Linked DNA regions of Homo sapiens. The protein of the gene in region 1 interacts with the protein of each later gene in a pairwise test. Each region holds a gene or a part of one and is shown in the gene's direction. Other genes may lie near its edges.

Region 1 (16,109 bases):
CTCCAAGTTCACACACTATATTTTTCACACAGCGACCCTGGCCACTAACATAGGACCAATAGGACCATCAGTGAGAATCAGATGAGGTATCATAAGTAAAAATAATGTATGAACTGGAAAGTACTATGGAAGTGAGGATTCCATTAAGAAGATTATTGAAATAGGCTAGCTTCAAATTGATGGGTCTCTGAAAAGGATACTTACAAAAAAACTCCACAAATATAATAATGGATAGAGCCCTAATCTCAAAAACATAAATTTGAGGGGTCCCAAACTCAATTACACAAGGTTAAGAATATAGAGCTTGGTAAATTCTCTCTCTCTCTTTTTTTTTTTGGAGACAGAGTCTTGCTCTGTCACCAGGCTGGAGTGCAGTGGCGTGATCTTGGCTCACTGCAACCTCCGCCTCCCAGGTTCAAGCCATTCTCCTGCCTCAGCCTCCCAAGTAGTTCAGATTACAGGTGCCCACCCCCATGCCCAGCTAATTTTTGTATTTTTAGTAGAGACGGGATTTCACCATGTTGGCCAGGATGGTCTCGATCTCGTGACCTTGTGATCTGCCTGCCTCGGCCTTCCAAAGTGCTGGGATTACAGGCGTGAGCCACCGCGCCCGGCCGGTAAATTCATTTTAATTCACTTTAAGCTTATATTGGCTATGTGTAGATTTTCTCTTGTTCCTTCATTTTGTTTTAGTACAATTGTAATTAGACTTTTGGGATACATTTTTAGTGGACTTCAAGGTCCAAAAGACTCAAAGCCAAATACTCCAGAAGTACTTATGTAAATAAGAAATAATCCAAGTATATAATTAATTATATTAAAATACATAACACATATACATATGTATATATAGTACAGAACATATATACATATGTGTGTATACATACATATATATTACATATATATATATATATATATATATATACATAACATAGCATACATTTAGTTAGATAGCTTTTCCAACTCTGATGGTGACTTCCAATTTCTGAAAAATTCTCCAGTAGGGGTTGCTTGAAACAGAAAGAAGGAGACGTGTGTGTTAAGGCGACTGAATGGGGCTGTGGTGGTAGCACTAACGTACCTACTTATGAACCTGGTCAGATCCTTCCTTTCTCTTTGTTTTAGTTTACTCACTCCTTCTAAACTGAAAGGCAGTAAACTCTAGTATCTGTAAGATGACTTCCTTATCTAAGATTTTAAGGTTTTATAATTTAACTGTATTACTTTCCAATTATAATTCTACTTCATGCTGAAAAGAAATCCATAATCTAGCTTTTTTCGTGTTGGCAAGGTTAGTTCATAGAAACCATCTTAAGAAACATTGACATGATGGCACAAAATAGAGTGATTATTGATAGCAATCAACTCATTGTATACATTAATCAAATTATTCTAATGCGTGCCAAGGTTTCACATGCTTTTTTTTTTTCAAACAAATACTGAAAAGTCTTGGAGAAATCACACAAGAATATAATAATCTTTTATGTGATTTTACCCGTCATCAGCTTTCCCCTTCTATCTGAACATTTAAACCTCTCTAGATAACAAGAGTTTTACTATAATATTCAGGAATAAGATTCTTCCTGGACTAGGAGGATGTAGGGGGAAATGAGCCTCTGTTTTCAGCATCCAATCTCTGAGCAAAGGATCTCCCACCACCTGCTGCTTCCAACAAGCCCAAACTCTCGCTCCAGCTAGCTTTCCTGGGAACAGAGCAGAAAACTGGAAGGGAGGGGAAGAAGGCTGGTGAGAGCAAGAGGCGGGGAGTGAGGAATGGGAGGCTGGAGGAGGCGTGGCCCGGCTTGGGGCCGTCGGGATAAATACTGAGAACTGGGTGCGGGGTGTAGGGAGAGAACTCTGGAGGAACGCTGAGCTGAGCAGCACCGAGGACAGCGCCCGGCAGCGCCCGCGCCCAGGTCTCCCTCCGCAGCCCTGACTCGCGCACACGCTGAGCTTTTGCTCACTCCCCCTCGCGCGGACACAGACACACGCATATTCACACACCCAGACACACACCCCGCTGTACAATGGCAGAATCCCACCTGCAGTCATCCCTCATCACAGCCTCACAGTTTTTCGAGATCTGGCTCCATTTCGACGCTGACGGTGATTATCTTCTCTTTTTAACTGTTTCAAGACCCGTTTCCATGCCCCTTCCCATTCTTTGCCCTTTTCTGAGCCTCCTGATCCCATTATCCCTCCTTTCTATTCTTTACTTCTTCCCCCTTCTGCCTAATCTTATCTTCTTATCTCCCCGACTGGCCGCCAAACTGTCAACCTGAAAGTTTATATTGTTTCCACCGTAATCCCAAAACCTTAAACTTTTGTCTTTCCAGGAACGGTAATGGTAGGAGAGAGAGAGCAGGGATTGGGGAATGCTGCCCCCCCAAAGTTTCTGTGGCTGCGCTTAGCACCCCAACCATCCTCCTTTGTCCTCAGTGGATCTAAAGTTTGATACCCCAGGAGGGGAGCGCTTCACCGTCTGTACACTTTGCTGGTTAATCAACGTCCAGGCAAGAGAGAGCCTCTCGGGTCGCCAGAAAGATAACTGTCTTGGAAAGTGAACGGGAAAGACACTTGGAATGAGATATCTGACACCTGGGTGCCTCTTTGTCTTTGCAGGAAGTGGTTACCTGGAAGGAAAGGAGCTGCAGAACTTGATCCAGGAGCTCCAGCAGGCGCGAAAGAAGGCTGGATTGGTAGGTTCAAGTTTGCGAAAAAGAAAAAAAGACTTTTAACCCCCAAATTAAAACATTCTTGTGTTTTCACAAAAAGCCAGTAGCGTAAAGCGCTTTCTGGGTAATGTAAACGTTTATTGACTGCGAAAGGCAAGAAAAAACACTTTTCCAACTCGAATACAGAGAAATGGGAAAGGGGAAAGAGACTGAGAAAGAGAGAGGGGGAGAGAGAGAGAGAGAGAAGGGAGGGACAGAGAAGGGAGGGAAGAAGGGAGAAAGGGAGACAGACAGAGAGAGACAGATTTTCTAAAGGGAAAAACCTTGCTATCTGAAACTGGAGCTTTAAATATATATATATTCTATACTAGTACTTGCATTAATAGGTCTTAAAAGGGAACTGTGGGTGCATGAGATTCTTTAGCGGATCACCACCTCTACCACTGAGTTTGATTAGGTAATTTTTAAATTCTCTTTTACTGTGTGAGAAATAAGGGGGTGGAAATGCATTTCTGCCCCTTGGTGGTCAAGAAACAGATCTGCAGATTATGGATCTCTTACTCTATCACCAATTATTATTGTTGTGATGTTGATGTAGTTGGGGAGATGAGAAAACATCTTGTCCTCACTAAGGGTAAGTTGCCCAACTTGCAACCTAACAGTGAGAAAGAATTTAGCAAGAAAAGATCTTCATTTCTGTTGAAAGCAAGAAACCCAAAAGGTAGAGAAGTAAAAAGTAAAACAATTTTAAGAATTTCATGTATTGTAAAAAAAGCAAAGTGATACTCTGATGGGCAGCAATTGATGGTGTTTTGAAAATGGCTATGTTCGTTATTTAAGCCATTAGTTAATTAAACAAATAACCATTCTTATTAATTATAAATGACTCCCTTTGGGCATAAATTAACCTGTTAAGAAAATATGTTGTCAGCATAAATATAAAATACAGTCAGCTTTTAAACATAGATGAGATGGTTGTCCAGAGGAAAATGGGTTAAAAATTGTACTACTCTATTGAGGTTTATGTAACACTGCCTTTCAGAAGGCAGTGTTGAATTGGGATGAGTTACACGTTAATGGTCTTTGGCCTTTTTGACTACGTTTAGAAAGAGATTTTACACTACCAATGATGTATATATTATATAGCAGATCACCACCTCTAATATTGAGTGATATATATAAAATTTAATAATAGAACTTTTTGCCCTATCTAAATTGAAAATTGTGTAATATACATTTCTGTACAGCATATTCAAAAGAATCCCAGAGGGCTCTAAATGTATTATAATGCACTATAGAACTATCAGTTACAAAAATCATTGACCAAATTGATTTTAAACCAGATTGTGCTCTAGGGATTGTTTTACCCAGATTTAATATTATATAATCTAAAAGTATAATAGAACGGAATAAAATAGCATAAAAATGTTTTATATACTCTCCACCCTCCCCATGTCTTATATATTGCCATGTAAATAAATTTATGCAATACTGTCATTATAGCTTTATATATCTTTGGCTAATCTAATAAAAGCAATTATCTTCCTCATTTAAAAATACATATTTTAAAATCAGGTTGGAAAAGTCTTACTTTCCATAAAATTTAGAATTAAAACCTTGGAAGATGCTTCCAGCAGGTAATGATTATATTTTATTTTGTGCAGAAGTAATTTTAATATTGAAATCTATTTTCAGCTTAGAAATTTAAATATTCATGAACTTTAAAAAAATATTTTTCTTCCTCTGATTTTAATATTTGTACCTTTTTGTAAGCAATATCTTCATGTTGGAGATTTAGAATTTAATTATTTTTCTCTGTTTTGGAATATTCAAAGCTCCAATTATTAGACTATAATGTAATGATACTAAACAAGCATAGTTATAGGATTATATCAAGTTGCTTAATACCTTGATTCTTGAGCATTTTTCTGGAATGTAAATACAATCTGGATTTTTCTGAATTTAGTATTTTTCTTGATTTGGGTAGTTAAAATCTAAATCAAGATGTGGATTCAGAGTTTCATATAGTAGATACATGTTTCATTATACTACTAACTTCATTGCATTAAACCTACTTGTATATATTTCTTCTCTTTCTTTAGAACATAAAAATTGCCCTTATAAACCAGGCTTTTTGCATTTCTAGCCATAGGATAACAGATTTCATTGCATTAATGGAAACATTGTTTGGCTTTTCGTATTAATAACATGAAATTTCAAAATTTTCACTAGGTGAATATAACATTAATTAAATATAACAATGCAATATATTTTCAGAAACTATCCTTTTACACTAAACATAGTGTTTGGTCTTTGTAGTTGCACTCATTTTTATACATTTTTAATTGGTGGTGATTATATGTTTTGCACTGTTTAAAAAATAGATTTTGACATACTTGTCAGAAACTTCACAAAGTAAATGTCAAGTCTGCTCGTGAAAGTAGTGGTATTACACCATTTTAAAATTTAAGGACAGATGCTTTGGTTTTTGTTTACGTTAAGATGTATGTAAAAATAAAAAAACTGTAGGACCTGATATTCCCACTATTGCCATGGTTGAACACTTTCATTTTCTTACAATTGTTTCTATAACAAAATTAGATAAATACAAATTGTAATTTATCCATAGTAAGTTTTATAAAGACTAAAATATAATTATATTGCTTTGTTATTATTTATTATCTTAGTTCAACTAAAGATGTCTACATTGGTTCCAAACGGCTTTTATAAATACTAGTAATAATGATATTTAGTCTCAATATAGCCCTTTAATTATATTAACCTATCTATCCCCAAAGCAAACTTGTGTGGTAGATAATACCACCATCTTGTTAGCTATGATGAAAACCGAGACCTTAATTTGCTTTCCCAAGGACGTAGAATAGAACATTAGTAAGGGCTGACCTATTTTAAATAGGCTTCAGCTAATGCAACAGGGCTATTTTAAATGGGCTATGTTGGAGACCCAAGGGTAAAAATTAAACCTCCTGAATACCAGTTCTATGTTCAGATCACTAGTTTATAGTTCATAGCTCTCTAATCTATTTAATTTTTAAATTTATTTAATTGATGAATGCCTCTTTTATGCTTAAAACAATCTTTGCTTACAAAGTGAGTTAATCTTTAACATTCACATTTTTTGCTTGTTCAAAATGAAAACATATATTACTCTCCATAGATAAAACATTATGTTAGAATGAGAAAAATGTTGTAAGACAAGATAGTGTAGCAATATAAGGTAATCTTTAATGAAGCAAGCATTGTTTAAAATATATTGATGGTGATGATTATGTTAAAATTCACTAAAAGTTATGAATGGAATGATTCTGACTACACTTTCAAAGGATAGCATAGTCTCAAAATTAATAATAGAAGATAAATCATATTAATTGAGAAATAATCATGATTACAACTCTTTCATTTGGAACTAATAAATACTGTGTATCAGTTATGCCTTTAATTTTTTTGAGAATAGTTAATCATTATGCATATTTCTAAATGGTTCTAATTTTGGTTTTTCTTTGCAGTAAGTTATTAACACCATCACAAGCATAACTGGTATTTTTTTAACAAACCTCCTACCTGCTTTTATATAATTTTAGGAGTTATCACCTGAAATGAAAACTTTTGTGGATCAGTATGGGCAAAGAGATGATGGAAAAATAGGAATTGTAGAGGTAAGGAATTTATGCATTTTTCTGATTTAATTTTAATAAATGAGTTTCAATTTTGAAGTTGTCTTCAAGTCAAGTAAGATATAGCAAGACCCATTCAGTACAGTTTATTTTACCTAAGTAATACATTATCTTCTGTTCAGAAGTATAAAGTTAAAAAATGTTCACAAATGAAAAACATCTAAGAGTATTCCTAACCCAGGGCCTAAATTTCATATATTACAAAATTGAGACCATGGAAAAACAAAATTGTTTGCCTCTGGTCATACAGCTATTTGCTGGCACAGGTGCAGTTAGAGGAACAAGTCCCTGACTTCTACATGAGTATCAATCACATTCCATTACCCAGCCCCACTTCCATACAGTGTCTAAGCACATGGTCCATCAGTATTTCTTATCACTTAACAGTGTAGACTTGACTTTTAAAATATAAAATAAAATGTTTGCAGTCCCTGTGAAATATTTACAGTCCTTATTTTTCATGGCAAAAAGCTGCATCCTGGTTTGACAGTTGGCCTTCGTAAAAACAGAATAATTTAACTAGAGTGAGTGAATATTTTATGATCTGTTATAGGTACAGATTTCATGTGAATCTTTGAAAGTTAAAACTGTGGGTGTCACATCTTATCCTTTCACAGTGACTTTTCCTATTAAGGGCAACTTATTTTTGTCTGTGAATCAAGGAAGCAAAACTGATTATGCATCAATTCTTCTGCATTCTCAGATTTGTGAAAGAGCTGTTGCTTCCCTTATATCTACGTTTCCAGCCTGTGGTGTCTTAGCCTCTTTCTTTATCTCAGCAGCCTATTAGAGAAATTGGGTGGAAGTCTTTGTCCAGAAAAATTAATTAGGTCATAATTTGAAATATGCCAAATCATAACATAATTATGTTATTTATATAGTGTTTCTCAGTGTATTAGATTGTGAAGTATTCTGGATCTCAACAACATTTAGTAATAATTTACCTTTGATTCAGAAAAATAACCTGGTTTTCAAATAATTGATCTTATAGGACACTTGTGATGCCAGTGTGAAATACACTTATTTTTAAACAGCTGATACAAATAGAGTTAAGAGAGGACATACTATTATTATCTTTGTAATTAAAAATTTTCCCTGGAGTACATACATTCCCCTTTACCCGTGTGTAACTCATTACTATATAAATAGATAATAGTAATGGGACTTACAGATAGACATATAGGCCAACTAATCAAGGTATGAAACCATCAAGGATAAGAAAATAACTTTTAAATTAAACATAAATGAGATGAGGTAAATCTAATTATTCAAAACTAGTTTGGAAATATGACATCAGTGAAATTACGGATTGGCTCTTTTAGAGTTTGACATACTTTATAATCCTAGTTAAGGAAAACCTGTCACCTTACATTTAACATACTTCTCCTTGAAGGAGTCCAATGGACTCAGCTATTTATTCAATTTCATTTCTTCAGTGATACTAGATTGTGCAGTAAAAGGCATTGATCTGATTCACATGGATTTTACATTTTTATAAGGATAAAATGGATGAGCATGTTTTGAATCCCGGTTTTACTTTATGTGATACAGTCTAATCATTTATGACTTATTATTTCAGCGCTATTTTGAATGAGAGGTTAGAGGCCATTTAGCAGACGCATTGTCCTGGAGGTTTAATGAAGGAAATTTCCTCAGAAGTTTTAGATAAGGAACTGTTACAGGAAAGAAAAGGCTTTCTGTGGAAGGAAAGATATAGAAATATAGGTAACAGAAGAGGACAGAGAAGGCGATGAAGTCTGAAATAAAGAAGTGAGAAGCTTTTATAGCAACAAAAATAATAAAATAATTCACATTTGTATAAAATAAAATTGACAAAGTGTTTTCAAATATGTTATCTCATTTGATCATCATAACTAGAAAATTAAGTAAATTTAAATATAAAATGAAGATCTATTTTATAGTTATAGCATGTGAAGCTTCAATAGGATTTGCCTAAGGTCACAGAAAAAGTAAGAAATAAATGGTAGAACAGTCAGAACCCAGCCATGTTCCCCCAAACTATTCTGCCTTTTTTAAAATAATAAATAATCTGTACATTTTCTGCATTAAAAGGAAAACTTTTCAAGCTTCAGTTGGTTGATTACTTATGGCAAGTTTCTAAGTTTATCTGGGATGAATAGGGATGCACAAAGTGTTCTGCAGAGAAGTTATTTGGGCAAAGCACTCGAAACATAATTTCAGCAGAACTTTTGATCAGCTGAAGCAGAAATAATTTAAAGGGAGACAAATGAGATACATATAAACTGATTGGAAGGTTTTAGTGTTCCAGGACATGGAACTTTTTGCTAGATGGGACTCTTGGGAAGAACTAGCCAACATTCCTTATTTTAAGGATGAAGAAACTGAAGCCCGAAAAGGTCGAATGATGTATCCAAGGTCCCATTTGCAGGGAGTGACAAATTCTATATACAGACTTAGATCTCATTCCGATTTTAGAACTCTTTTCATTAATCTTAGTTATCAGCCAAGACATAGGAGTAAGGGGTCTGGAAGAGGGCATTAGTTTGAGAGAAGAGAAATGGAGAATAGGAGGAAAAATAGGAGATTGCTTCAATAGTTCATATGCATGTTGGTTCACTGTGTGATGGTTAAGAGTGAAGAAAAGAGAAATTCTGAAAATAATTGGGAAATAGAAATTAAAAGTTACAGATTACATGTAGAAAATGTGGAAAGGGAGAGTAGGAAATGTCTGAACTTATATTTTGCTCTCTACTGTAACCAGAAAGCTGTATTAAATGAAGTTCATCCTTTCTTTTTCCAATTTGACATATATCACTTGCTTAGAAATCCTATAAATAATATAGAACACAAATACACAAATTCTAGCCAGCTATAAAGGAATGCAAAATCCTATGTTTTCTACAATTTATAATAATCTACCTACTGACATCAAGCACACATTAACTTTGGTGTTCAAAGGGAAAGGAAGATGGATTTACTTATATGTTATGCTTACTTAATAGTTATACTCACAAACTCATCAAAATCTAATCAAAGTAAACCAAATGATACTCATGCAGTGGTCTGCGTCCCTGATGGAACAGGCCAAATTGGTTTGTCTCTGAAAGATGTCATTCAAAAAGATTAGAAAATGTAATGGTTAACTTTCAAAGTTCTAACGTGACAAAGTTAGCTGACACTTTCTAACAACATGCATTTGCTACCTAGAAACAAATATGTTTCTTTCTGAACTTTCTAATTTCTTGCCTTTAAATAGATTTAAAAATCCACACAAATACAGTTTAGAAATAACGAGATTGTTAACACAAACTCAAGACAGGAGCATCGAAATTTTGAGATAATTTAACAAATAATGTGATGGTCAAAAAAATGTTCCGAATTTATTCAGACTAATAGCTCTACTGCAAAGAAGGCTGATTAAAATAATTAAAAAGGAAGACTTAATGATTTAGCAGATAATAGAGCTTTCTTCTCTGGTGTTCACATGAAATATAGGTATTTCTCTTAAATGGGTGTCAAATCTGTAAGTTTTTCACCTGATCCTTTTGGCAATGTGTGAGAACCTACCATCCTCTCCATTCTTACTGTTTCTATCTGTCCAGGTCAGTGCATCCATTGAAAAACAGACCTAAAAGCTATTTTAGTCCTAAAACTGTAACAACCCTCCCAGGGAAGCAAGCTCTTCTCCAGCCTTTCCCTCTTTTCATCTGCAGTGGGATTTGAGCCTGTGAGTTTAGCCATAGTGAATATAATTTTTCATGGAAGACTACTTTTCCACCACAGAATTTTGGGAAATGACTGACAATGAAATCTGATTTTAAAATTCCCTCTGCATAGATCTTTCTAAGTGATTTATTAGGGATACTTTTTTGATTGAGGATTTTAATGGAGGGTGATGAAGGTAAGGGACAGAGTCTCTAAGCCAAGAAAGTCAGACTCTGCCTTCAAATCTGGCTCCAACTGCAATCTATGTGAGAGCAGGCCATTTACCCTCTTTGAGCCTCTGTTTCCTTGGTAGTGAACAAGGATGACAATGTATTAACTTCATAAGGTTGTTATGATCATCAGTATCAAATAATACATATTGAACAAGTAGATTGACCCTGGCACACTGTAAAAACTCAACAAATGTATTTGCAGTTATTGTTACATATAAAAATAACTTACTACAAAATCGACCCCATCTTCTGAATGCCAAGCCTTTTCCCCCACTTATTATATAATTTGTCAAATTCAAATTATTAAACTGAAAGAGCTTTACATTTTTGATAAAGTTATTTACCTTTCAAATTTCCTGGACTCACTTCTCACTGGCTAGGGAAAACGTTTTTCTGGTTCTCAAGTGAAAAAAAAAAATGAATGCTTGGCTAATACATGTTCAAGAATGTTAACATACCATGATTGTCTTTAAAAGTTAGGAATTCTGCCTCATGTGCACTGTGATATAATTTGTATCACTAATGAAGTTGCCTTTCATGTATACTCTCCTCACAACTAGTACTTAGCTTTATTGTTGTTTTTATCTCCTGCTTTGAAATTGTCAGGGGAAAAGTTGTTTGAAAGTATCTGCCTCCCTATATGGTTCTCACTAGTGGTGACTGTGGTCACCAGCACAGTGCCTAGTATTTAGTAGCCAAATGAGCCACAGCAAGGGATTTCAACTTACTCCAAAACATCAGGCAAAGTCTCTGTATTACGCTAGAAATAAAAGAGAGATGTAAAGTCCCCTGTTATGGGTAGAGTTCCCTGGGAAGCAGATCTGAGTGGAAGAGTAGCAATGAGCAGGTTTATTAGGAAGTGCTCTTGGGATCAATACCCCGGGACAGAAGTGAAGAGAATAGATCTGGGCAGAGGGAGAAGCTGGGCTGTGTCACAGTCTCAACGGGGACATCAGCTGACCCTACAGTGAGTTCTGAAGCTGGGATGACCCTTCAGGAATGTCTCTAGTTTTGAGTGAGACCGTTGGGCCTTTATATCCCCATGTTGATCAGTCATAGGATGCCACCTCCTTGGGGACACAGCTGTCTTCAGCCCAGGTATTCCTTCAATGGGGCCTCACAGGTGAGGCTGCAGCAACACTCCCAGCACTTGAAGGGAGTTCTGGGTAGCATATCACAATGTCCACCCCAACCCCTATTCACAGCTCAGTAATAAGTTATTGGAATTATCTCCAAAGGAACTTTACCTCCATTTATTTACAGCCTATCCTGATGCTAAACAAATAGTTAATTACCTTTATATATTGCTTCAATAAAATATTTACTAAAATTTGTGCAGTTTCTGGGCCACAAAACAGTAAATAAGACACAGACCCCATCCTCAAGGAGCACGTAGACTAGTAGGGGAGACAAGCAAGTAGGAAGTTGTTGGTTTTTTTTCCTACTCTTGATAACAAGCAATCAGTTCTCAGAAATGAAGCTCTGAGGGATTCTACTTATTTCCTTAGCTACCTGCCTTCCACTCATCCCCTTGATATTCTTCACTCTCTTTTCCAACTCATAAAAAAGTTTTGGGAGTTCATAAAAGAGCAGGCAGGCAGCCCAAAGATTACAGAATCACCAATAATATTGTAATAAGAAGTATTGGATACTTCTATAAACAGCAGTGACTTAGCATATCTGAGAATAAAGCAACTCTACTTAACACCTCCTATATGAAAGACCTTTGGCACATTATAGACATAGTCATAAAGGCTACAGCTGGAGAATTACTGTGCCCAGCTCTGAAACTTGAATATTGATTCATACGCATTGAGAGAAGAACCGAGAGACAACACAGGACCACCACATTGTGAAACATATCTTAAGAAAGATTTCTTTACATTCACTATAGCCACATCCTATATACACATAATAATTTTTATATGCTTAAGACTCCTTTCTAACATTTATAAAATAGGATGGTATCATGTTGAGTGTAACATTAATGGTTCAGTGAAATTAAAACAGATTGAATATGTTGCACATTGATGTAATCTGTATTTTTTAATAATTTAAGTATAAAACCAAAGCAGTATGGGCAAGAAATACACATTTATAGTAGACATGAAGAGCATTTTTACTATCTCTGTATCTGACATTCAGGAGACCTCTCAACTTTATGTGAGTTACATGAACTTTTATGTTGAAACAAAGATGGCAATTTCCCTAATTTTACATTTAGTGATTGCTTACTAGTTCATTCATTTGTTTTTTTCTGTTTTTATGTATTCAGTGAATTTGGAGATGTAAAATATTTAAAGAAAAATTATTCTTTTTTGTTCAAAGCAACACACACTAATTATAAAAATCCAAACAAAATAGAGAATTATGATGAAGATAAGCAAAAAATAACTCAATTCTTTTAAGTAGATGTTTTTAATAAAGTAAAATTACCAACCAATCCGCAAGCATTTATTTCAGGCATATAACATGCTAGATACCATGCTGGGCATTCAGGGGATGCAGAAAAGTATTATTCCCTGCCCTCTTGAAATTAATGGTCTAGAGGAAGGTCACGCAAAAATTGTAAGAAGTATCTAACAAGTTGCATACTAATAAATAAAGGACGAGTTGGGGTTAGCTATTTCCTGTTTCCTAAATGAACACTTATATTCATGAAAAAAACATAATAAAATGTGGCTAGACCTTCTATATCATGCAGAACCCTCCAAAATGTATACATAACATCCATTTCCATTGTTCAATCTTTCCCTCAAAATGTCTGCCTCTGATATATTTTCTTCTCTTTGATGTGTTTTATTGTCTTCCATCTTTGTTCCCTCTTCTTTCTTGTGTTACTTTTTCTTCTCTTCCCATCTTCTTTAAAATCCTCAAGGAGATATTCTTCAGAATCCCTCCAGGAAAGTATTATTATAGAAGAGGCCAGGCTCAACAAGACTGGAGGGGTGTGGCTCTCCGTCCTCCAGAGCCCCTCTCCATGCCGAGCCCACCCACTGCCATTCTCCCTCCCTTCTCCTCTTCCCCCTTAGCTCTGGGGGGAGACCTACATTCTAGGCCTAACTTACCAGATATCTGGATACTTTATAATGAAAATCATTTATAGCTACTTTCCACTAGGAGCCCACTTACAGATGAGGAAAAAAAAGGGATTTTTATAAGGAAAATGGTGTTCTAGATTTCAATGAGTAGAAACAGCTTATCATATTTAAACTATCTCATTGTCACGTGTAAAAATCACCAACAAATTCATTATTTGCAGTCCAAGAGCAAAGAAGCAACCAAACCACTCTATTACTGTCTTCAACAAGCATGTTGTTGACTTAATCTACTAATAATCACCAAATTAAAGTGATTTTCAGTCTGCCAATCATCAGGTCATCATTCAACCTCTTTGGGCCTTAGCATCCTCAATTGAAAAATTTGGTCTTGAATTAAATTAAATTATGTTATTTCTGAGGTATAGAATTTTATGATTCAAGTATTCAAAGGAATTGAAAGAATGCAAAGGTCACAGAAGTATGTCCTGAGTTTAATAAGGGACCTGGATAACACACACACACACACACACACACACACACACACACACACACACACTGCAATGATGCAAATGTGTTTATGTACCAAAAGCTAATTACATTTTTTTAAAAGCACTGGCACATTATAAACCCCCATTTTTACTTTTTAGATATATTATCATCTACCCACACTAGTGACCTTTCTTTAAAAATAAATAAGAAAATGTTTTATAACTAGGTCATATTAAACATGTTGACATAAGGTTTGGCCCTTTCCCTTAGTCTCACCCACATGTGTGGTGCGTATAAATCGAGTGGTTTTAATTTGAAATATTATTTCAAAAATCTAAACATAAGATAAGCTAAAGGGCATACACAGGCATAAGAAAAATTAGATTCCTTGCATATAAAGTAGAATAGTGCATTTTATATTAAATATTAAATTTTTAAATGAACCTAAAAGGATGAATTTTTTAAAAAAAGTTATGATAGTATTTTCTATAACTTGGTAGAACTTTTAGAACTGACTCTGACTTTAAGGCTGATCTAGACTACAGGCTGTTGGCCTAAAATCCACGGATGAGGGTCCGTCCATGCCCGTGATCTAGGGAATTCATCAAATCCTGGAAATTAGATGAAATATAGTGTGTGTAGATTCATTATTTAATGGTGAAAATGCAGTGCTTCCAACAGAAGGCGTTTTGAACCCAATATATTCAAGAAACACTGGCTTCTATTTCAAGTCCTTGTTTTAGTGATGAGGGTACTGAAGTCCAGAAATGGCTCGGGGTTGCTGGGGACCACAGCTAATTAGCTACTGTGCCAGAAATAGATCTCACATCTGTAGTGGAGCCATCAATCCAGCTCCTTCCTTCTCTGTACGCAATAGATTAGTCATAAAATGGGATATGGAATCCTTTTTTCTTCCAAAAAAAAAAAAAAGAGAGGAGGATTGAAGTTTTGAAATGAGATCTAAGGGAAAATGTCATAGAGGCATGCCGTGGAGATCAGAAAATAAACCCCAGCCCTGGATTCAAGCAGTGGATGTCCTTTCAGCAGAAAGCAACAATTTGAGAACTGGCTTTTCCTATTCCTGTTTAACGCCCCACCATTCATGGTGAATTTCTTTTCCATTGCCTTACGATTGTCTTTGGTTTATCTTCTCTTGTATCTCATGGTAGGCTTTCTCCTCGGGCTTGGGAATACATTTTCCCCCTTCACTCCCCTCCCCAACATTTATGTTCCTCATGGTTTCTTTCACTTCACATGAAATTTATGGCCCCCACATGTGCCTTTCTGTGACCCTGTGAGGAGAGAGGAGAGAGGCATAGAACACTAATCTGTGGCATAGAACACTTGAAGGGTTCAAGCCACGAGGATGAATCTGCCTGAATGTCCAGCAGACAAGAAGTGGCCACGCTAGTTCTACCTGAGCACAGGTCTGCTGCGGCCACCTCACTGGCCAAAGAACCAAGCACACAAGGGCACACGAGCGTTGGAGAATCGACAGCGCTCCATAGGAAAGTACCAGAAAGGGAAAGCCGACTCTAATGTTTTTCCTCTCCTACTTTTCTAGCCTGTGAGGGAACACGTTGAAGAAAAACTAAGCAGCAGGTAATGGCAGAGACTTGTTTTTGAGCAACTTACAACACGTTTCTCTCTTCTTAAATCTTTTCCAGTTGGCTCACGTATTACCCACAGAAGAGAATTTCCTGCTGCTCTTCCGATGCCAGCAGCTGAAGTCCTGTGAGGAATTCATGAAGGTATAAGAAAGCTGCCCCTTTAAGAAAGCTGCTTAAAGTAGGAAAATTGTTCCTTTTATTAAAAATGTGTTTGTTTTCCTTATCCAAAATTACTTACAGACATGGAGAAAATATGATACTGACCACAGTGGCTTCATAGAAACTGAGGAGCTTAAGGTAAGCAAATAAAAACTTGTACTAAGTTTTTCCTTTCAGATGCAATTATGAACTAAGAGTTTCCTAGCTTTTTAAAAAACCTCCCACAAAAGAAACTAATGTTGAACAGTGTCACATTTTCACCTACTCTTCGACATTGTTAATGAAGTACCAGATCAAAAAAGCATCTTCAATTGCTTCTGGAAATTCTGTACAGTAATGCAAAAAATTAACATTTTTTGTGGTGTACACAAATATAAGACAGACAGACAGATAGAATTATAGATAAGCCGAATAAGCCATTCTTTTATTGAAATTTGTAGTTTTAGTTCTCAAAATAAACACATATATATATAAATTTTCTTACAAAAGAAAGAAGAAAAAGTTACTGAATAGCTACTGT
Region 2 (16,578 bases), on another chromosome or scaffold:
GACTAGAAAACATGTCCTCAAGTTTTCCTTCCACCATTCCTGACACAAGTACAGTTGCATGGCTTTCTGCCCTTCGCATCCCCACTGAATAGACGGCAACTTGGGGATCCCCCTCCTACCCCAGAGATCCTCCATTTTAGGACATCTATAGGTCTTCTGGGAAGTACTCTTTCTTCTGGCTCAGATCAACTAGTCAGTGCAGAACCAGTGAGCAAGGGCCATGGGTTTTGGGTACTGTGTGGAGGGACTTTCAAATGGCCACAGGTCTAGAGCCTGATGGCCCTTCTCTACCCACCCCTACCCAGGCATACAGCAAGAGGCTGTTACGGCACCATGGGGAGACTGTCCTGCCCAGCCTGGACCTCAGCCCCCAGCAGATCTTCTTTCGAAGCTATGCCCAGGTAGGCAGCGGCCACCTCCCGCCACAGCTTGCTTTATGTCAGTTGAACGCCTTATTACTGAAGCTCATGGAAGTCCCCTCTTCAGACACTCCGTCAAATACCCCAAACCCTCTTCTGCAGATGTCCTCACTGTTATCTTTTCTCTTCCCTCCCTACCCCTTGGAATCACCCCTCAGATGACTACAGGTTCTTCTACCTAGTTCAGCACCCCCACAACTCAAAAGGTAGAAAAAACTCTATTCCCAAGTTCCTCCAGGAGAGGAGGAGACCAACTTTTTTTTCCTCTCATACCCCCAAAATACAGATGCCTTAAAAATGAGCCTGTGGTTGGGCACAGTGGCTCACACCTGTAATCCTGGCACTCTAGGAGGCCGAGGTGGGCGGATCACTTGAGATCAGGAGTTTAAGACCAGCCTGGCCAATATGGTGAAACCCCGTCTCTACTAAAAATACAAAACTTAGCTGGGCTTGGTGGCGGGCGCCTGTAATCCCAGCTACTTGAGAGGCTGAGGCACGAGAATCGCTTGAACCTGGGAGGCGGAGGTTGCAGTGAGCCAAGATCATGCCACTGCACTCCAGGCTGGGTGGTAGAGCAAGACTCAGTCTCACAAAAAAAAAAAAAAAGCCTGCGACAGGCTGACTGTGTGCCACATTCCTCTTCAGACACCTGACCTTAGGTGTGGCGCCCACTTGACATCACCTCCTTAAGCACCCTGTACTCCCTCAACAGACTCAGGTGCCAGGTCTTCAACACGCTTAGATTAGACTTCACCCCAGAGCTCCTGCGCTAGACCCTGCCTCTCTGTCATTGATAAATGGTATCATTACACAGCCCAGGCCCTCCTCCTGGACTCCTATTGCCAGATTAAATGAACTATACATTTCAAATGCTCCATGTGGCCCTTGGGGCACTTGATCCCCTGGTTCCCCTCTTTGTCTGCTGTCCCTGATCACCCCTTGTCACCGGGTCAGCTTTGTCCTGTGGACCCTCCCCCTTCAATGACCTCTCTTCCTGCTCAGGTGATGTGTAGGAAGCCCAGCCCCCAGGACTCTCACGACACTCACAGCCCTCCACACCTCCGAGTCCACGGGCCCCTCAGCAGCACCCCAGCCTTTGCCAGGTATTTCCGCTGTGCACGTGGTGCTCTCTTGAACCCCTCCAGCCGCTGCCAGCTCTGGTAACTTGGTTACCAAAGATGCCACAGCACAGAAATATCGACCAACACCTCCCTGGTCACATCCATGGAATCAGAGCAAGATTTCCTTTCTGCTTCTGTTCCAAAAATAAAAGCTGGCACTTGGCTTCCGCTTGTCTCTTAATGACTTGTTCCTGCTATGTTCTATGCCTGGAAGTCATTAACTGTACGGGAGAAAAATACCCTGAAGTTAGAAAAGATAAGAGGGAGAAATGCCAAAAATGTTTCATGGACACAAGAAAAGGAAAGAATCAACAATTGGTGACCTGGTGGGTTTGAAGGCCACCCAGTGGACCAAAGATTGGACAATAAAGCAGTCTAGTTGGAGACGAGAAGGGCTTGGATTAAGTATCGGAAAGCTGCTCCCAATTGTTCTCAGGATTTTATCGTTATTTTATTGTCATTGCCTCCTGCCTCTAATCTGCTGTCCTGAACAAAACCAGGAGAGGTGTGGGAGAGAAGGATGTGGGTCTGCTGTCTCTGGCCCTGGGAGATGAAACTCCGAACCTGGAGAGGCAGTCAGTTAGCACTGATGGCAACTGGTATCTCTGCTGCTGAACCTTGAGATACAGTGATGGTGATCAGAGGCAGAGAGCCATGCCTGCATCTCCTTTGGGAGTTGTGACCTGGAGCCCAGGAGGGAGGGAGGGTCAGTGAGTGAGCATGAAGCAGAGTTGGATATTTGGGAATGTCCGCCTCAATGGCCCTCCTGAGAAAACCATGACACTGGCCAGACTAAAGCAGAAGCTGAGGTGGAAAGAGTGCTTGTGAACAGCTGCCGTCTTGGACGACTGGTCTTCTTCCTGCTGGGCCATGTCCACCACCTGCCACATCTCACCCACTGAGGAGGCCACAAAGTGCTCTTCGAACTGTTCTTGATTCTGGTCTGGAACAGGGGAAAAGGACAAGGACTGAGCCCTGACCCTGGCCTGAACCAGAAAGGAGAAGTTAGAATAGGAAAAACACGTTGAAGCCTAGGGCTGCAGTCCCAATTGCCCATATCCTTAGCCTTCACCAGAGAGGGGATGCTCTTTCTAGAGGTTTTTTCTGGTCTGTGTTCAATCACAGCCCCAACTCAAACACACACACACACACACACACACACACACACACACACACACACACACACACCATTCCTAAGGTTAGCTGCCTCCTCTAGGGTTTCAACACTGGGGGAGTCAGGGGCCACCTTGAAGCATGACAAAAGCCAGCCAAATGCACCATGCTTACACACACAGAAGTTGCATGCAAGCTCAGCTGGCCCATGGTGAGCCGACACTATTATTTCACATGATAACCATCAGTGGCTGGAGTTACCCCCCATAAACCAGACCTATGTCAGGTCTCACCCTAGCCTCATCAGTGACCTGGGGCCTGGCCTCACACAGACCTCACCCTGAGCCTCCAGACTCTCCCGTCTTTTTTTCTACCTACCTGAAGAGGGTGTTTTCTCTGTATGGCTCCTGTCTTTTTTTCCACCTACCTGCAGAGGGCGTTTTCTCTGTCTGGCTCCCATCTTTGGGGCCTGGGCTCCCGTTCAGAGGCTTCACCTGCAGCAGCAGCAAGATAGGAACCAGGAACACTGCCCTGCAGAGCTGGGGGGCCAGGGGAGGCATGGACCTGCCCACCCACTGCCTTTGGCCGCCCCCTGCTCCCAGTGCCCAGCAGGATCCGTGCACCTCCTGCCCCATTCCTGTCCTGGCCCTTAACCCTTTCCAGGGGCATTTTCTCCCCTCACCTTCCATAGGACCTCTGACTTCACATGTTCTGTGACATCACAGCCATGGGCCTGAACTTCATTCCGGCTCACTAGAGCGTTCCAATGGCGAGGCACAAGAATGGAGCACAGCCAGCAGGGATGGCCGAGGCTTCCAAGATGACCACAGTGGGTCATTCTGTATTTAGCAGAAATGACTTAACAGCTTGCAATGTACATTCATATCCATTACACCATTAGATCCACGTAGAAACCAGGACTGCAAAATCATAGTGTTCTCATATCTATTACATTCATGAGGAAACTGAGGCTCACAGAAAAAATGACTCTCTCACTCAAAATCGCCCAAATACTAAGGGGCAGAAAAGGACTCTTGATTAACTTTTACTTTTAAATATGATATCTTCCCACTATTCTATGTGGCCTTTCTGTAACAAGAGTGGTTTGCATAGGATGAGGCCCAGAACAGATGAGCCGGACAGGATTCTCAAGTCGTGGGTATGAACATGCTGCTCTACATGAAGCATGGGTCTGCCAGAAAATAAAGATGGGGAGGAGCATAGGGTAAGGATGGGTAAAAGCACATGCTGTGTGTGTGTATAAAAGACACAGAGACAGAGACAGGCATAGACAGGCAGAGACAGACAGAGACATAGAAAAAGAGAGAAAGAAAGAGACCGAGACAGGCAGAAACTGAGGGGTAGAGACAGAGAGATAGAGACGCAGAGACAGAGAGACAGATGAAGAGAGAGTGAACGGAGAGAGAGCGAGAGACAAAGAGCAGGGTGCCTTGCAGCTGGTAGAGCCCATTCACACCCTCTCTTCACCCTCCCCTGGTTTTCCCACTTTTCTAGCCTTTGTCCTCTTGTACCACCAGGTTGAAACACCCTCTTCTTTCATTTTACACCTTTCTGTACTCTTAGACGAAAGAAAAGGTTGTTAGAGGCTCATCTCCAACCTCATTGCTTGGCAAAAGGAGTTAGAGTCTGCAGAGAAGCCGCAGTGCGGCAGGGAGTCTAGGATCCCAAATAACAGATCTGGGAGAATCCTGCCTCAGTACTTGGATGCGCCTCCTGCCCATGAGCCTGGTGAGCACAGATCTGTTGGCAGTAACCGGCTGTGGGTAATCACCCCCAACTGCTTCTTGGGCAGAGATGGTTGGAGGGTTGTGAGTTAGGGAGACAGAATGAAGGCCTTTTTTCGAAAACCAGCAACAGAGACATAGGCCATTAGATGCAGGATGGCTGCTAAGACAGGTAAGAGAAGACTTTAGTCACTCCTGAACTCTCATAACCAGTTCACACTGCTCCTGCTCATCCATGCATACCAGACCTGAATGAAATACCACATGCAGGTCCAAGGACACTGCGGAGACAGGCACCCTTTCTGCAAGAGGGAACTGCAGACAGAAACACACAAAGAGATGCTTTCCCACAGAGTTTACTCGTGTTAGCAGACATGCCCACATGGATGCTGTCTCACATACAGCAGACACCATCTCTTACACACTTCCTGATGGTCCAAGCCAGATGACAAGGGACTAGGGAGTGGTACGGAGGTCGCTTGAAGGTGAGTAAGGAAAGATTCAAGTAGGCAGGTGACCCTGCTCACCCCACCTTGAACCCATTGACGTGAGATCCAAAGAATGATGCTTGAATGGAAAAAACCATCACTAATCTCCTCCCTCCTGGCTATTTTGGGGGAGCAGCCTCTTGGTTTCCTGGCAAAAAGAGAAGCCATCTCCAGCTCTGTGGGAATGAATGGGGAGGGCGGCTGGGGTGAGAATTGCCTCCCGGGCAGGCTTGAGTGGAAATAACTGAGTTGTTTCCATTACTTCCATTTCCTTGCCACCACCACCCGCCTGACCTCCGCAGTGTTAAAAGAGATAAATTCTTGCAGAAAACAGGGAATCCCTTAAATATTTTTTCTTATTACAAAGTAGAAAATATAGAAAAATACAAAACCCCAAAAAGGCTAATAATTCCACCATCCAGTGATAATCACTTTTTTTTTTTTGAGATGGAGTCTCACTCTTGTTGCCCAGACGGGAGGGCAATGGCACGATCTCAGCTCACCTACAACCTCCACCTCCTGGGTTCAAGTGATTCTCCTGTCTCAGCCTCCCGAGTAGCTGGAATTACAGGCATGTGCCACCACACCCAGCTAATTTTGTATTTTTAATAGAGAAAGGGTTTCTTTCTGTTGGTCAGGAAGGTCTCGAACTCCCTACCTCAGGTGATCTGCCCGCCTCGGCCTCCCAAAGTGCTGGGATTACCGGTGTGAGCCACTGCGCCTGGCCACAGTTAGTTTTAAGGTATGGTATTTGAATCCTTTTCTTTCTTTCTATTTTTTTTTTTTTGAGATGGAGTCTCTCATACTGTTGCCTGGGCTGGAGTGCAAAGGCGCAATTTCAGCTCACTGCAACCTCCACCTCCCGGGTTCAAGTGATTCTCCTGCCTCAGCCTTCTGAGTAGCTGGGATTGCATGTGCCTGCCACCAGGCCCAGCTAATTTTTTTTTGTAGAGACGGAGTTTCACTATGTTGGCCAGGCTGGTCTCGAACTCCTGACCTCGTGAGGCGCCCGCCTCGGCCTCCCAAAGTGCTGGGATTACAGGCATGAGCCACCGCATCCGGCCCTGAATCCTTTTCGTAGATGGCTGTGGCCACGTAGGGTGGGAGTGTAATTTTTAAAAATGGAAATCTAGGTATTATGGTTCCTCCTCCTCTTTATTATGTTAGAATAAGAGGTCAGGCTGCTTTGGCGTGAAGGGTTCTGGGACTTGACGGTGTAGTTTGGTGCCCCCAGCCCAGTTCTCCCGAGTGCCTGGAGGCATTACTGACCATTCATCAGTGGCAGGGAAGCTGCTCTCTGAAGGCGAGAGTTTGCAGATGTCCTCACTTGCAGAAAGCTGAGAGAGGCATGAAAAGAAAGGAGAGAAAAGGAAAAATAGAATGGTGATGTCGAATATCACAAGAGGAAGAAACAGTCTGGAGAGAAGGCAAGGAGAGAACAGGAGAGACTCCAAATCTCTGGTCTACCAGCTGGGACTGCCGGGGGACACCATGGTCCTCACCCAGGTTACTTGTCCATGCCCTTCCCACTGGAGAGGACGAGGTAGGCAGAGAAGGGCAAGTGAGAGGGCGAAGGCCCAGGGATGGCGGGTGGGGGGGCCTGAGCATTGGGCCTCCCCTTTCTCTTCCCCAGACCCCTGGACATGCCCTTGGCGGCAAGTCCCTGCACACCTGCTCTGTGCAGCTCAGACTGGGCCAGCCTCCTCCCCTGCCGGCCCCCCATGTCCCAACCCCCCCGCCCCAGGACCAGCTTTATGGGTTGTAGTTTCCTTGGCAGGTGCTCCTTTCCTGACCTGCCTCGCTTATCAAGGCATCTACAACCCCCACCTCACCCTTATCGCTCCCTCCATCTCCTTAGACTGGAAGTCACTCCACAAGGGCGTCACCCCCAGCGAGGCAGAAAAATGTCCCACAAGTTGAGCCCTCCCCACTCCCAGTGAGAACATAATTCCACTGTATCTTTTTTTTTTTTTACTTAACTTTTCCTTTTGGCTTTTAATAAGAAAAAGATCCAAATTTTCCCCCTTTTGAAACATCAATGAACACTAGCTCCTCTTAGTTTCCTTATTTATTTTCCTTTCAATTCTTGTCCTTCTCTAAAGGTTATTTTGTCCATCCCTCAATCTTGGGAGCAGATCTCTCTTTCTTACAACAAAAGAAGGGGGCAGTCCCCACTCCTCAAGACCCCCAGAGGGAGAGTCCCAGCGTATCCTCACGCTGGTCTCTCACACCTTTACAGCCAAAAGATTCCCAAGAAGCAACAAGGTCTGGAGAGTGGTTTGGAGCTGAGATCCCAAGTTCATGGCCAGTTACAGTCTCGCCACTAGCCATGGGACTTGGGGCCAGCACACCCAAGAATTCTCACAGACGGAATTCTTCCTTGTTCTCATTTACCTGATAGGTCTATTGAGTGAATGCAATTCAATAATATTGATGTACCTCTTTGAAAACAATGAGAACAGAATTGAACAATGAGAACACTTGGACACAGGAAGGGGAACATCACACACCAGGACCTGTCGTGGGGTTGGGGGAGGGGGGAGGGATACATTAGGAGATATACCTAATGTAAATGACAGTTAATGGGTGCAGCACACCAACATGGCACATGTATACATATGTAACAAACCTGCATATTGTGCACATGTACCCTAGAACTTAAAGTATAATAATAAAAAAAATGAGAACATAAATACAAGCTATCATATACAGTAGTCACCTTTTATCCTCAGGGGATACATTCCAAGACGCCCCAGTGGATGCCAGGAACCTTAGATAGCACCAAACCCTGTATATACTATCTTTTTTCCTACACGTACATACATACATACATACATACATACATACATACATACATACATACATATGATGAAGTTTAATTTATACATTAGGCACAGTGAAGAGTTTAGGCCGGGCATAGTGACTCACGCCTGTAATCCCAGCACTTCAGGAGGCCGAGGCAAGCAGATCACCTGAGGTCAGGAGTTCGAGACTAGCCTGGCCAACATGGTAAAACCCTGTCTCTACTAAAAATACAAAAATTAGCCAGGCGTGGTGGTGGGCACCTGTAATCCCAGCTACTAGGGAGGCTGCGGCAGGAGAATAACTTGAACCTGGAAGGTGGATGTTGCAGTGAGCCAAGATCACACCATTGCTCTCCAGCCTGGGCAACGAAAGTGAAACTCTGTCTCAAAAAAAAAAAAAAAAGAGTTTAACAACAATAAAATGAAAATTATAATAATATAAAGTTATGTGAATGTTCTCTTTCTCTCTGTCTCTCAAAATATGTTATAGTACTGTACTCACCTATTTTCCAACTGTGGCTGACCTTAGGTAACTGAACCATCAGAGAGTGAAACTGTGGATAAGGGAAACTACTTAATATATAAAATATAATATAAAATATATAAAATAGTGCAACATTACTTATTCCTCCTGGTGTTTCATTCCTGGAAAGAGTCCCAAACATGGAATCACGATTTATTTGTCGTCTACCTTTGCTCAGTTTCTGCTGTTCAACCTCCATAATAACTCGAGGCCCCTGGGGGCTCCTCTGACCTGCGTCCCCAGGTACCAGAGCCTGCTCGGCGACGCTCCAGGAAGCTGGCCGGTCACGGTCATGAGGACTTCTCACAGAGAGGGATTGGCCTGGGAAGTGGGGGTCAGAAACCCTCCTTTGAGGTACAGGGTTGAGGACAGAGATGACCACAAGACACATAAATGGGAAGCTCTGAGAAGCAGCCCGGGGGTCTCTTGAGCCCTCTTGTGGAAGGAGGATCGGCAGTGATTGAGTACTTGTGACACATGCTTTACAGATGCTCCCGTGAGACGGCATAGCCGTTACCCCAATTTCACAGGTTAGGAACTGAGGCTCAGAAAGCTCACCTAACTGTAAGGGATAAGAGTCAGGATTTGAACCAGGCTCTGCCTGACTCTTGAGCTGGAAGTCTTTATTTCCTCCTCTCCCTCATGCAACTAACTGTGCACCTTGTTTGTGGACCCACCTTCCATCCCTTTTCTTTTTCCAAATTCCTCTGCCCCACCTCTTAGCTTCTCGGGTCTCAGCCATCCCAGCCCACAGTTAGGAACCTTCCTTCCCCTCCTCCTTTTCTTCCCCAGGGTGGTTCTGTGGCTGTGGGGCTCAGCTCTGCAAAGAGCTCCTCCCCCTCCAGGAAAAGCACTTCTCCCCAGGCAGGGCGGTCAGTCCCCTCAGCGCACCTGCATGCACACACACCACCTCACAACCACACACTGCATGCACACACATACACCACAGCCACACACTGTGCATACACGCACACCCCACAACCCACATACTGCATGCACACACACACACCTACAAGCTGCATGCTGCATACACAAGTCATACAGGAGATAAACTCAGAGTCCCAGCCCCAAATAGACCCCATCTCTTGCTCAGTTGCTGTCATCCTAGACCTGTTTCTTTCGCCACATTTCTATAATCTGCCAGTGTCTGCAAGGAGAAGACATGGGGGGTTTTCTACCTAAGGCAGAAGGGCCCGGGAGCCAACTCCAGAAACTTCTGCCCTCCTTTCTGGTCAGAGAACAAGACTGGGACCAGCACCTGGACAAGCTTCATATGCTGCAGCAGAAGAGGTAGGCTTCCTAGAACGATCCGTGGCCCTACCGCCGTGATCCTCAGACCCTCTGACCCACCTGGGCCTGCTTTCCGAATACAGCACCCTAGAAGTGTATTGTCAGTGCCAGTCACTCAGACATACCCTTTCCTTCCAGCCCACCTAATTACAGAATCCCAGCTGGCCCCTTTTAGTGGCGGTGGAGGATGTGGCTTTGGGCCACACAGGAAAATCTTGAGGGTAGACCTAAGGACAGAGGCAGAATGACAGCCAAGGGGGAGTGAAAGGACCAAAAAGGACCAGAGGGAAGAAGCCAGGTTGTGTGGGATGGGGAGGGAAGGCAGAAGCAGGCTGCTGAAGAAGGGATGCACTCCTGTGGGTGGTGGAAGCACGATAAGGAAACGCCATTCATTTGAATGAAAGTGGACTGTGTGGGAAAGGGGAGGAGCGCTTTGTTTGGTGTAACACTGGGTGCTGACCAGTGGAGGAGGGCAGCTCAGGTGACACTGGAGGGCTCTGAGTTCAGTCCATCTGCCTTTTATTGAGTCTACTGTGTGCAGAGGGGTGTTAGATCCCAATGACATAAAGATTGAATGAGACTTGTGCCTGCTCCTGGAGAGCTCTTAGTTCGGGCAGGGCTAGCACACCTGCAGGTAAATCATTTCATGGCTTAGCCCTGAGGTCCAGTCCCAGGAAGAGCAGCTGGGGCAGGGACGAATCCTGTGGGCTGCTTCTTCCTCCAAGTGTTTTGGGGCTTGCCTCCCACCCAACAGCTGCCTGAGGGGTGAGGTTGTTGAGCAGACATTAGCAGTCACAAAGGGCTCCCCTGTACTCCAGAAGATTCCTGTGCTTTGTTCAATGCCCTGCTGTCCTCATCTTCAAGTTCTTAATAATTTTGAACAAGGGGTCCTGCATTTGCAGTTTACACTGGGCCTGGTCCCAAGTACCTCTGAGCCCTCATACTGTCAAGCCCTCTGCTTCCTCATCTCCCCACCCAATACCTCCAGTGGAATCTCACCTTCCTGCTTTAGAGTGGGACCCCTGGGTCTCTGAGAAAGTGAGCTTCCAGCCCCAACTTGGACCCTCTGCAGAGGGGCAGTGGGGATAGAGGGCCAGGGAGGCAAGGACTTTGTTTGTGCAGTGGCCTCAGGATGGGGGTGAATTTGCAATCTCAGCCCTGACCACTCTAGGCTGGTCAGGGACACCAGGCTCCCTGGGACTGATTCCCTGGGTGAGACGGGGCAGGGAACTGACTCCTCACAAAGGCCCCTCCTAGGAGCACTGCCTTAACAGGTAAAACCAGGCCCCACCTTTAGATTAAAAGCTTCTTCTTTAAATGAAAACACTTTGGCTGGGCGTGGTGGCTCACACCTGTAATCCCAGCACTTTGGGAGGCCGAGATGGGTGGATCACCTGAGGTCAGGAGTTCGAGAGCAGCCTGGCCAACATGCTGAAACCCCGTCTCTACCAAAAATAAAAAAACTAGTCAGGCATGGTGGTGGGCACCTGTAGTCCCAGCTACTCGGGAGGCTGAGGCAGGAGAATCACTTGAACCCAGGAGGCGGAAGTTGCAGTGAGCCGAGATCGCACCACTGCACTCCAGTCTGGGCAATAGAGTGAGACTTCGTCTCAAAAAAAATAAATAAATAAAATAAAAACACTTTTTCGCCCTGGCTCCTGGGGCTATTGGAAGAGAGGGATTTGGAGGTGGGGACCTCAGAGGAGCCACTCATCGGCCTGTCCTTTCTGTTCTTCCCCCTACACCATGTGCTTGCCTTTGGGGCCAATACACATATGTCTAGTTGGAGAGGCTCCAGCTTTATCTCTTTCTGGGTTCAAATCTGGGTATGGTAGAAGCAAAGATTAACAGAGGTCCTGTAGAATGAGTATCTCAACCTGTTTTGCCTTGAGACACCCACATAAACAAGCTGTTTAGACCTTTGCATCTAAGGGTATAATGCAGAAGAAAGAGGCACCCTGTAACTCACCCCACAACTCTCCACCCCCTGCAGGGACCTGTATCTAAATAACCTGAGGATGCTGGGCGCAATGTAATCCCAGCACTTTGGGAGGCCAAGGCAGGCGGATTGCCTGAGCTCAGGAGTTCGAGATCAGCCTGGCCAACATGGCAAAACCCCATCTCTACTAAAAATACAAAAAATTAGCTGGGCGTGGTGGTGCGTGCCTGTAATCCCAGCTACTCGGGAGACTGAGGCACAAGAATTGCTTGAACCTGGGAGGCAGAGGCTGCGGTAAGCTGAGATTGTACCACTGCACTCCAGCCTAGGCAACAGAGCAAGACTCTGTCTCAAAAAAAAAAAAAAAAAAAAAAATAGCCTGAGGGAGTAGTCAGAACTTTAGTGCCTCACAAATTTCACAAATTTCAAAATGCCTAGGAAAGATCTAGCAGTCGATCCATTCCTCCTCCCTCTGTGTTTTGGTCTCCCAAACTCCCCTTGGTTAAAGACAGTAGATTCAGCAGGCCCAGGAGCAGGGGGACCGCAGATGGAAGTGCCCTCTGTCCCGCTCTCCAACTATCCAGGATCTGAGACAGTTACTCAGGTTAGATGAATTCAGCCAAGCCTAGGGTCCTCTTCTTAGAGACTCTCAGACCACTCTTTCCAGACTACAGGTTCTCTTCCTATTAACTCTTCCCCTCCAGCAGAGCTTCAAGGGCCATCCTCACAGGAGAATCACCATGATGTGAATTGCAAGGAAGGCCCTGGGGCTGACCCTTGCCCAAGTCCACCCTCGGTCATTCGAGTCCAGTAGGCACTTCTTTCCAATTTGTCACTGCACGCTGTGTGAGTCACGTTGGTCTTAAAGAATGTCTTAGATCCCCTTTGCTCTTGGCCTCATTCTGCTATGACTGTCTCTTCCAAACTCACGTTCACCTTTCCCCAGGATTCTAGAGTCTCCACTGCTTCGAGCATCCAAGGAAAATGACCTGTCTGTTCTTAGGCAACTTCTACTGGACTGCACCTGTGACGTTCGACAAAGAGGTGGGATCTGGATTTAATGGGATGGAGGTGGGGGCAGAAGAACCTACTCCTCCTCCCCAAGACTTCGAGTTTGTGAAATAGGGCCTTGGAGGGTGTCTCTGGAGCCTGAGGCCCCTTCCTCAAGGGAATCTGAAAAGTGTCTAACATCTCTGTCTTACTCCAATCCAGGAGCCCTGGGGGAGACGGCGCTGCACATAGCAGCCCTCTATGACAACTTGGAGGCGGCCTTGGTGCTGATGGAGGCTGCCCCAGAGCTGGTCTTTGAGCCCACCACATGTGAGGCTTTTGCAGGTAAGGAGCCTACATGGTAATTCAAGGTGGAAACTTTGAGATGGAGGGTGTGCTGTTGTCTCTTAAAATTGGCCTCTGAAGGATGGGTTGGGGTGGGGTGATGGAGGGTCAGGAGGATGGGCTCCGTTGAGTTGGGAGAAATGCAAAGGTCCTGGTCTTGGCTTTTACCAATCTGTGGCTTCCTTCAGCATTTCCTTTCAAACCTCCCATAGTCCCTGTAGGACCTATCTCAATTTCTTTCTCTCATAGCAACATGAGAATGATTATATTCATAGCAATCCCCTGCTGGCTCCCAATAACTGAAGGGTAGGTCAATGAGCAGGGCAGCCTGAGGGATGAATTGCTCTTAGTCCCAGGCCACCCTGCCAAGCCCAGGGCAGAAGTCTAGCAAAGATCTATCAGGAACCTCCTGAGAGGGATGGTGGGGGATGCTGTGTCCCTGAGAGAACTGGGGACAGAGGGAGACCCTGATGATGGCTGTCTCTGGGCCAGGTCAGACTGCACTGCACATCGCTGTTGTGAACCAGAATGTGAACCTGGTGCGTGCCCTGCTCACCCGCAGGGCCAGTGTCTCTGCCAGAGCCACAGGCACTGCCTTCCGCCATAGTCCCCGCAACCTCATCTACTTTGGTGAGAGCAGGGTTGGGCTTGAAGGATGGTTGGCTGGAGAGGCGGGCAAGGCAGAGGGAGGCCAGGGCATGAGGGTCCTGCCTTCAGCTCCATCTGTTGGGCAGTTGAGAGGGGCAGCCCTTCTAGGGCTTAATTAAGCCAGAGGCCCATTCCCCTGATGGTTCCTTCCTCTGGTTCTGCTGGACGAGTGTCCCTCAGCCTAGAACTGAGATATGGGGGATGAGGAGGAGGCCCTTATTTGGGGGAGACTGCCCACCCCATCCTGCCATCCTGCGTTCTCCTGCCATGGATCTCTCTGTGTCCACAGGGGAGCACCCTTTGTCCTTTGCTGCCTGTGTGAACAGCGAGGAGATCGTGCGGCTGCTCATTGAGCATGGAGCTGACATCAGGGCCCAGGACTCCCTGGGTAAGAGCTGGGATGGGGAGGGGAGCTGGGATGCTGTGGGGAGCGAGGGACAGGGTAAGGAGTGGAGCTGGGACCTTTAGGAAGACCCCAGAGTGGGGATGGGGACATCAGGGACTTTAGGCCAGTGGCCACATGATACCCTGCGTCCTCCCCAGGAAACACAGTATTACACATCCTCATCCTCCAGCCCAACAAAACCTTTGCCTGCCAGATGTACAACCTGCTGCTGTCCTATGATGGACATGGGGACCACCTGCAGCCCCTGGACCTTGTGCCCAATCACCAGGGTCTCACCCCCTTCAAGCTGGCTGGAGTGGAGGGTAACACTGTGGTAAGAGACGCTCCCCATCCCTGAGGTGTCTTTCTAATGACCCTCAACCTATCCTGCTGGCCCTGGGAGAAATAGAGGTGAAGGGCCCACCTTTCTCTAAAATCCCTTTTCCCCAAACTCCCCAAAGGGATGGTGGTCCCTTGCTTCCTATTCCATCACTGAAATCTTCAGCTTCATGGTCCTTGACTCAAGAGGATTTGAGAACCTTACCTTAATGCATGTGCTGTGATAACCCAAAGCTCTAGCTTCCTTTGCCTATTTTCTTCTTTCTGCACTTTCTGGGGTTTTGGAGCAGGAAAGATGACAAAAAAGGGAAAGCTTGTAGATGCAGAGGTTTGCTGGTTCCCACTGTCTGTCTGTCTCAAGGGGTGGGCAACTGGCTCCATCCAATGGAGTTGTTCTCCTCGACCACCTTCTCACACGTTGGCCCCCTGACTCATCCTGGTGGTCTCTCAGATGTTCCAGCACCTGATGCAGAAGCGGAGGCACATCCAGTGGACGTATGGACCCCTGACCTCCATTCTCTACGACCTCACGGAGATCGACTCCTGGGGAGAGGAGCTGTCCTTCCTGGAGCTTGTGGTCTCCTCTGATAAACGAGAGGTATGGATGCCAAGGAGGATCAGGCCTGTCATGTGAGGGAATTTAGTGTTTGTGCAGAGTCTGTCCACTTACTAAGATCCTGGGCCTGAGACACTTCCCAGCCTTATAATAGGTGGAGATGAGAATAGTCTCCTGGGACATGGGGGAAAGTCCAATGCACACTCCTCTCCTGAATCCCCTGTCTCTCTGCTTAGCTCCAGTCCCTTCTGCCTACCTTTCGCCTTCTATCATTTCAGATGAGAAACTCCAAATAAGAGCTGTTTCCTCATATTCATTCATTGGTTCAGCATTGATATGGTTTGCATTTGTGTCCAAATGCAAAAATTTCATGTCAAATTGTAATCCACAGTGTTGGAGAAGGGGCCTGGTGGGAGGTGATTGGATCATGGGGACAGACTTCCCTCTTGATGTTCTCGTGATAGTGAGTTTTCACAAGATCCGGTTGTTTAAAAGTGTGTGGCACCTCCCCCTGCTCTCTCTTCCTCCTGCTCTCTCTTCCTCCTGCTCCGGCCATGTAGGATGTGCCTGCTTTCTTCTTGGCCTTTTGCCATGATTGTACGTTTCCTCAGGCCTCTCCAGAACCTGTACAGCCTGCAGAACCATGAGCCAATTAAACCTTTTTATTTATAAATTACCCTGTGCCAGGTAGTTCTTTATAGTAATATGAGAATGGACTAATACAAGCATATTGAACACCCGCTGTATGTCAGGCACTGCACAAGAAACAAACAGTACAGAAATAAATACAACACAGTTCCTGTTCATCAACTTCCTCAATTCTCAGTCCCTGTCCTGAATAATTGCAACAGAGCATGACATATGCCGTAATAGTTGTGTGTACCATGCATGCAGACAGCCACATTGAGGTAGAGTTAACTTGGCTTGGATAGACCAGAGAAGATGTCACAGAGGAAATGCTGGGGCTGGATCTTCAAGGAAGAATTGGGAGTCACAGGAAGATGAGAGAAAAAAAAGAGCTTTTTAGAGAGGGAGCAACGTATAGACCATTCAACAATGCTGGGTTGAGTGATGTGAGGGAAACGAAAATTTGTTGAAGACTGCAGTAGAGAGGAGAAAAGACTTCCAGGTTTCAGAACGTTCCATGAGAGTGCCAAGATGTAGTTTCTGTTTTGTATCTGCCACAGTGACAATTTCCCAGGAATCCTTATAGATCCAGAAAACATGAATGATTATTAATACTAACGAATAGAAGAAAAGTTGAGTGGCTAGTTTGTGAGATCTTCCTCAGAGAATATCCCTGGAAACAGATACACTTTGAGCAGGATTTCTTAGGTATTAAAAGCACAATCCCACTGTGTGGATTTCGCCACCACATATCCTTGGTCTTTGATTTAAGCTATTCTCAATATTCTCCAGCAGGTTTCATAAGTGTCTTGGGTCAGTTGCTTTTTTCCTCCATAAATCTTCCTTTCTAGCCCCCTTTCACATCCTTCACTACCTTCAGCTGCAGTTCAGAAGACCTAGACTCCTGATTTAGGACAAAAATAGAGGCTTTCTGGCTGGGGATCCTTCAGCTTCCTGCCCTACACTGCCGAGCATGTCTGGAAACTGCCCACTGTCTCTCTCCTCCCCTCCAGCTTCAGTAGAAAAGATATTCATGCTGTTAATGGCTAATCACTCTACTGTGCTTTGAATCTGTCTCTTTCTAATTTCTCAGATGCCTCCTCCCGTCCATCATCCCCTCTCCTGTGTATCTTTAACGTCTCACTGGCTGCTTATTTCAGAGCACCATCCCACCCTGCCACATCCTACTGCCTGTAACCTCCATTGCTTCTTTCCAGCCCAATAATACTTCTAGAGCAAATCTGAC

The links.
Region 2: the proteins of CALB1 (region 1) and TRPV5 interact in binary tests that used the Homo sapiens proteins (3 or more experiments, as listed by UniProt).

What each region holds. Positions count from the first base shown.
Region 1 is NC_000008.11:90,068,616-90,084,724, reverse strand, and holds the start of CALB1 (calbindin), read left to right. Parts: upstream 1-1,845; 5' UTR 1,846-2,027; coding exon 2,028-2,106; intron 2,107-2,622; coding exon 2,623-2,699; intron 2,700-6,277; coding exon 6,278-6,352; intron 6,353-15,487; coding exon 15,488-15,571; intron 15,572-15,670; coding exon 15,671-15,727; intron 15,728-16,109. UniProt on the Homo sapiens protein: Buffers cytosolic calcium. May stimulate a membrane Ca(2+)-ATPase and a 3',5'-cyclic nucleotide phosphodiesterase.
Region 2 is NC_000007.14:142,926,257-142,942,834, reverse strand, and holds the start of TRPV5 (transient receptor potential cation channel subfamily V member 5), read left to right. Parts: upstream 1-9,088; 5' UTR 9,089-9,375; coding exon 9,376-9,503; intron 9,504-12,388; coding exon 12,389-12,486; intron 12,487-12,654; coding exon 12,655-12,777; intron 12,778-13,269; coding exon 13,270-13,407; intron 13,408-13,714; coding exon 13,715-13,813; intron 13,814-13,968; coding exon 13,969-14,144; intron 14,145-14,600; coding exon 14,601-14,747; intron 14,748-16,578. Other genes in the region: KEL (kell blood group glycoprotein), read left to right, coding at 306-401, 1,422-1,583; sperm-egg fusion protein LLCFC1 precursor, read right to left, coding at 2,248-2,483, 3,081-3,213. UniProt on the Homo sapiens protein: Constitutively active calcium selective cation channel thought to be involved in Ca(2+) reabsorption in kidney and intestine. Required for normal Ca(2+) reabsorption in the kidney distal convoluted tubules.